Linked DNA regions of Homo sapiens. The protein of the gene in region 1 binds, or shares a complex with, the protein of each later gene. Each region holds a gene or a part of one and is shown in the gene's direction. Other genes may lie near its edges. The genes, in order: TUBG2 and TUBGCP6.

The links.
Region 2: TUBG2 (region 1) and TUBGCP6 share a complex: the UniProt entries of both Homo sapiens proteins name them as parts of the gamma-tubulin ring complex.

The regions. Positions count from the first base shown.
Region 1 is NC_000017.11:42,664,825-42,667,750, forward strand, and holds the end of TUBG2 (tubulin gamma-2 chain), read left to right. Parts: intron 1-651; coding exon 652-738; intron 739-853; coding exon 854-1,003; intron 1,004-1,262; coding exon 1,263-1,415; intron 1,416-1,498; coding exon 1,499-1,660; intron 1,661-1,778; coding exon 1,779-1,976; 3' UTR 1,977-2,182; downstream 2,183-2,926. UniProt on the Homo sapiens protein: Tubulin is the major constituent of microtubules, protein filaments consisting of alpha- and beta-tubulin heterodimers. Gamma-tubulin is a key component of the gamma-tubulin ring complex (gTuRC) which mediates microtubule nucleation.
Region 2 is NC_000022.11:50,234,710-50,238,523, reverse strand, and holds part of TUBGCP6 (gamma-tubulin complex component 6), read left to right. Parts: intron 1-3,814. UniProt on the Homo sapiens protein: Component of the gamma-tubulin ring complex (gTuRC) which mediates microtubule nucleation.

The DNA.
Region 1 (2,926 bases):
TTCTTTCTTTTTATTTTTTATTTATATTTATATATATATATATATATTATATATATTTATACTTTTTTATTTATATTTTTTACAGAGATGGCATCTTGCTGTGTTGCTCAGGCTGGTGTCCAACTCCTGGCCTCGAGTGGTCCTCCCACCTTGGCCTTGGGATTACAGGCCTGAGCCACCATGCCCAGCAGTACTTTTATTTTATTTTATTTATTTTATTTTATTATTTTATTTTATTTTTGAGACGGAGTCTTGCTCTGTCCCCCAGGCTGGAGTGCAGTGGCATGATCTTGGCTAACTGCAAACTCCGCCTCCCGGGTTCATGCCATTCTCCTGCCTCAGCCTCCGAATTAGCTGGGACTACAGGCGCCCGCCAACATGCCTGGCTAATTTTTTGTATTTTTAGTAGAGACGGGGTTTCACCGTGTTAGCCAAGATGGTCTCGATCTCCTGACCTTGTGATCCGCCCGTCTCGGCCTCCCAAAGTGCTGGGATTACAGACATGAGCCACCGCGCCCGGCCTCAGTACTTTTTTTTTTTAAACTAACAAACCTACTTCCTGGCTTTGGAGTTCAGCAGGGGCTAAGCCAATATCTTATTTCTATGCCCATTTTATCCTCAAGATGCTGTGATGCTCTTCTGTCCCCCCAGGTGGTGCTGGACAACACAGCCCTGAACCGGATTGCCACAGACCGCCTGCACATCCAGAACCCGTCCTTCTCCCAGATCAACCAGCTGGTGGGCCCCCACTCCCGGACTCCTTTGGACTGGAAGCCCTCCTTGCTGGAGGGTCATCTGGGGAAGGAAGGTCCCACCCAGGCCGAGCCCCATGACATGGCACGCCTGTCCCCAGGTGTCCACCATCATGTCGGCCAGCACCACCACCCTGCGCTACCCCGGCTACATGAACAATGACCTCATCGGCCTCATCGCCTCGCTCATTCCCACCCCACGGCTCCACTTCCTCATGACCGGCTACACCCCGCTCACTACAGACCAGTCAGTAAGAGCAGCCTTCAGTGTCCCAGGCCAGGCTGGCCCTGGGCCCAGCAGGCCCTGCCCCAGCCTTTCTCTCTTCCCCACTGCCCCAGGAGCTGCCCTTTGCAGGCCCCAAGGCACTGCGCTCAGGGACTGGCACAGAGCGGGCGACTTTCTTGCTGACTTTCTCTCCACCCTCCCTCTGCCTTTGGCTTCTGCCAAAGAGAAGCCAAAGGGACTGTGCCCTGAGCGCTGGCCGGGTCCCTGTCTCACTGTCCCATCAGGTGGCCAGCGTGAGGAAGACCACGGTCCTGGATGTCATGAGGCGGCTGCTGCAGCCCAAGAACGTGATGGTGTCCACAGGCCGAGACCGCCAGACCAACCACTGCTACATCGCCATCCTCAACATCATCCAGGGAGAGGTGGACCCCACCCAGGTAGGGGAGGCCCCTTCATCCCGCGCCCTGGACCTGCAGGGGTAGAGGAGAGGCCACCTCCACTGCTCCTATGCCCACCCCAGGTCCACAAGAGCCTGCAGAGGATCCGGGAACGGAAGTTGGCCAACTTCATCCCGTGGGGCCCCGCCAGCATCCAGGTGGCCCTGTCGAGGAAGTCTCCCTACCTGCCCTCGGCCCACCGGGTCAGCGGGCTCATGATGGCCAACCACACCAGCATCTCCTCGGTGAGTCTAGGTTTCTATTCTTCTTAGAAGAGTCTGTTCCACTGGCCACCTTCATCATCTTCCCCAAGTTCACTCCTAACCCCCTGGCTCGCATTTTGGAGATTTTCATCTCTTTCAGCTCTTTGAAAGTTCCTGCCAGCAGTTTGACAAGCTGCGGAAGCGGGATGCCTTCCTCGAGCAGTTCCGTAAGGAGGACATGTTCAAGGACAACTTTGATGAGATGGACAGGTCTAGGGAGGTTGTTCAGGAGCTCATTGATGAGTACCATGCGGCCACCCAGCCAGACTACATTTCCTGGGGCACCCAGGAGCAGTGATTTCCCTCCCCACTACTCCTTCTCCTTCTAGATGGTAACCACAGCCTCGACCATGCCTGCTCCCTCTGACCCAGCTTCACCTCATGGACAACCCTTCTTGGTTCATCTCCAGCCCGTGAGCTGGTCCTGCTTCCTCCCTTCCATGCCCTAACTTTTAATATGCTTGTTCAGCTCTAATAAAGTAATAAAGCTTGGTTGTCAGTATAGCCAGGGCTTGATCTGTGAATACGGGGGGGTGGTGAAGGGGTCCAGTTTCTAGGCATCTGACAGTAGGGTGGCCTTCACCTCCTCCAACGTCTTATCACTTAGTCCAAATCTTAGTGTGTTCACTGTTTCCATTGGCATCCCTCACCTTGAACTAGGCTGTTTAGTATTACTAGAGTCAGCCCTTGTCTCAAGATTACAGAGCTTTACTGAGGTTTGCTGTCTCCTCAGCGCCTAAGCTTTGCCCCAGTGAGGGTCAATGTTGCCCCAACCTCTTCCACTCAGGGCAGAGGAGGTGGGGTCTACTGAAGGAGGGCACACTACATTCTGAGCAGGCCAGGAGAGCCAAGGTTCCAGATTCCCAGTGCCCAGGGCCATGAGAGTTCCAGGAACTCAATCCAGTTCAACCCAACCTGATAAGTAGAAACAGAATTCAAGAGTAGGGCTGAGCACATCCTGAGTTACTTTTCTGTGCCAGAGAAATTCGTGGGTTTGTTATCTGCCCCAAGCTTCTCTCCATTCTAGGCCCAAAGCATTAGGCACACCAATGATGGGCCCAGAGGTGGACAACGAGTAAGAAATGGGCAGTGCCAGATCTGATGACTCACTGCCCTCCAGCCTCAGGGATTCCAGGAGGCCATCTGTATGCCACTCAGTGGAGAAGGGAGGGTGAGTAACTGCCAGCTTCCAATGAGGCCTGTTTGCCTGCTCCACCCACAAACCTGTGGCAGCACACTGGCCAGGAG
Region 2 (3,814 bases), on another chromosome or scaffold:
CAAGTTATTGCTTTATTCTGTACATGTCTGCTAATAGTATTTTTTTCTGTTTTTTTTTTGTATTTATTTATTTATTGAGGCGGAGTCTTGTTCTGTTGCCCAGGCTGGAGTGCAGTGGCACCATCTCCAGCTCACTGCAACCTCCGCCTCCCGGGTTCAAGTAATTCTCCCTGTCTCAGCCTCCTGAGTAGCTGGGATTACAGGCACCTGCCACCATGCCCAGCTAATTTTTGTAAAAACTCAGAACCTTCCAACACCAGGTTCCCTTCACCTGGAACATTCTTCAGCTCACCATAATTAGGCAACTCCTTTCATCCTAAACAAACTAGGTCCCCCAAACTCTCCCTCATAAGTCTGTCTGTCTGTCTCTCTCTCTCTCTCTCTCTTTTCTTTTTCTTTCTTTGTCCTTGTTGCCCAGGCTGGAGTGCAATGGCGCAATCTTGGCTCACTGCAACCTCTGCCTCCTGGGTTCAAGCGATTCTCCTGCCTCAGCTTCCCAAGTAGCTGGGATTACAGTGGGATTACAGGCATGGGACACCACGCCTGGCTAATTTTGTGTTTTTAGTAGAGATGGTGTTTCTCCATGTTGGTCAGGCTGGTCTTGAACTCCCACCGTCAGGTGATCCACCCGCCTCGGCCTCCCAAAGTGCTGGGATTACAGGCATGAGCCACCGTGCTGGCTGTATTTCATTTATTAACTCCCCCTTTTCTAGGTTCATTTTTTCGGGTTGCTGATGAGGAGACATGGTCACTCACTCTCCTCATCACCCTGTTCTGAATACGCTGGAGACTGCGGAGCTCCCGCACGGTGGGGCCCGGCGGTGGTTCCTAGGCTGCGGAGCTCCGGCACGGTGGGGCCTGGCGGTGGTTCCTATAGGGAGGTGCTGCTGTGTGCCTGGCAGTGTGCTGAGCACAGCCTGGGCAGCTCCTGTAGGGACTTTCTCTGCCCAGGGCCCTGCAGAGTGAAAGTGCTGTGGTCATCTCAGTGTCCAGTGGCTGACCTGCACAGGGCCACACAGTGGCTGGACCTGAGTTTACGTCTCCTGGGCCCCTCTACTCCCTGATCCCACGGCCCCTGACACTGCAGTCGGGTCAGCCTGATGCTGTGGTTCAAGTTCCTTTGGCAAATCGTTTGGTCTTGTTTCATTTTAAATCCCAGCCACCTGCTAGTTTCCTGCTGTGATGAGCTCTGACCAGCAGGTGGCTAAAGAAACTGCCGCCTAGCCAGAAATTGAGCCTTCTCCACTCTCCAAGACATCAACCCTGCTTTCCCACAGGTCCCAAGACCCCACGGGGGGCCACTCGCCCCTGCTGTTGCCCACCCTGAGAACCACCATTGTCCGACTGCTCACGGCCCTCCCTGCTGCTGAGCTGCAAGGGCTGGGTTAAGGCGGAGGGAGGCCTTTCAGACCCTGGAATGGTCTCTTTCTCTGCATGTGCCACCCATCTGGGGGAAGCATTTTGCTACATTTTGGGTTGTGTTCTCTCTGGGGACCTGTTGGGGCGGGGGGTGTTCACTCCAGAGCCTGCAGGATCCTGCGCTGTGTCTTTGTGTTTCCGCTGTGGGCTTTTTTTCCCTCAGTTCTGAGTCACCAAGAGGGGTGTGCAGCCATGGCAGTGCTGGGGGCCAGTCCTGGAGGAGATGGGGTGGAAGTGGCTGCAGGGGGAAACAGGGTTGTGCCCACAGCCTGCACCCCTGCCGAGGCCATCTGCAGGAAGAAATGCAGGGGGCAGACAGAGGCTCTGAGAGGCTGTGTCTTTCTCATGCTCATCTCATCCTGAGGGAGCCTGGGCAGGCGTCTGGGGTCCAGAGCGGCCCCACCTGCTGACTGGACATCTCAGGGCTGGTCTCCTTCCTCCTGCCCCCTCCAGCCCACCCTCTTCATAGCAGAGGTGGCCAGTAAAAGTGTGTTTCTTGGAGCTGATTGTTTTCGCAGGGAGGACGGGGGTGTGAGTGTGTGTAGTGCCAGTACATGTGGTTTCACAGCCTCAGCACCAGCAGAAGGCAAATTTCCTCAGAGTTGCATGTGCCCAGGGCTGCCTGTACCAGCCCACCTTACCTGTTACTGTCTTAAAAATTTGTGAACTTAGCCAGGTGCAGTGGCTCACGCCTGTAATCCCAGCACTTTGGGAGGCTGAGGTGGGCGGATCACGAGGTCAAGAGATCGAGACCATCCTGGCTAACACGGTGAAACCCCATCTCTGCTAAAAATACAAAAAATTAGCCAGGCATGGTGGCCCGTGCCTGTAGTCCCAGCTACTCGGGAGGCTGAGGCAGGAGAATGGTGTGAACCCAGCAGGCAGAGGTTGCAATGGGCCAAGATCGTGCCACTGCACTCCAGCCTGGGTGACAGAGCGAGACTCCGTCTCAAAAAAAAAAATTGTGAATTTTTTTTTCTGTATCCATCTCTTACGGTTTTTCTGAGGTGGGGCAGTAAAATTTATATAATGTTTTTACCGTCTTAACCAGTTGTACAGCTTTGTAATGCTGTGTGTATTTTCACTGCTGCACAGCAAGTCTGCAGGAAACTCTGAACCCATTAAACAGCTCCCCATTCACTCCACTTTTTTTTTTTTTTTTTCCGAGATGGAGTCTTGCTCTGTTGCTCAAGCTGGAGTGCAGTGGCACGATCTTGGCTCACTGCAACCTCCACCTCCCGGGTTCAAGCCATTCTCCTGCCTTAGCCTCCTGAGCAGCTGGGATTACAGATGCCCGCCACCACGCCCAGCTAATTTTTGTGTTTTTAGTAGAGTCAGGGTTTCACCATGTTGGCCAGGCTGGTCTTGAACTCCTGACCTCGTGATCTGCCTTTCTTGGCCTCCCAAAGTGTTGGGATTATAGGCATGAGCCACCGCACCTGGCCTCCACTTTCTGTCTCTAGGATTTTGGCCACTGTAGGGACCTCATGTAAGTGGAGTTGCACAGTGTTTTGTGATGGCTCATTTTACTCCACTTGGCGTCCTCGAGCGCCGTCCCTGTGGAGACAGTGTTTTGTGATGGCTCATTGCACTCCACACGGCGTCCTTGAGTGCCGTGCCTTCTGGAGCACGTGTCTGAGCTGCCTTCCTTTTTAAGGCTGAATGATGGGCAGGGGTCTGCACGGACGGTCTGTGTTTATCCTCCTCTGTTGGGGGCTCAGGCTCCTCTCCCCCTGGCTGTTGTGGATGTTGTTGCCGTGGACGGGGGTGTGGATGCTGCTGTGGACAGGCATGTGGATGTTGCCGTGGACAGGCATGTGGATAGGCATGTGGATGTTGCCGTGGACAGGGATGTGGATGCTGCCATGGACAGGAGTGTGGATGATGCTGCCGTGGACAGGGATGTGGATGATGCTGCCGTGAATAGGGGTGTAGATGCTGCCATGGACTGGGGTGTGGATGCTGCCATGGACACGGGTGTGGATGATGCTGCAGTGGATAGGGTTGTGGATGATGTTCCCATGGACAGGGGTGTGGATACTGCTGTGGACAGGGGTGTGGCTGATGCTGCCGTGGACAGGGGGTGGATGCTGCCGTGGATAGGGGTGTGGATGATGCTGCGGTGGACCTGGGTGTGGATGCTGCCATGGACGGGAGTGTGGGCGATGCTGCCGTGGACCTGGGTGTGGATGCTGCTGTGGACAGGGGTGTGGATGATGCTGCCATGGGTGTGTGTGGGTGATGCTGCCAGGGACAGGGGTGTGGGTGATGCTGTCGTGGACAGGGGGTGTGGATGATGCTGCTGTGGACCTGGATGTGGATGCTGCTGTGGACGGGGGTGTGGGTGCTGGTACCATGGGTGGGTGTGGGTGATGCTGCCGTGGACAGGGGGTGT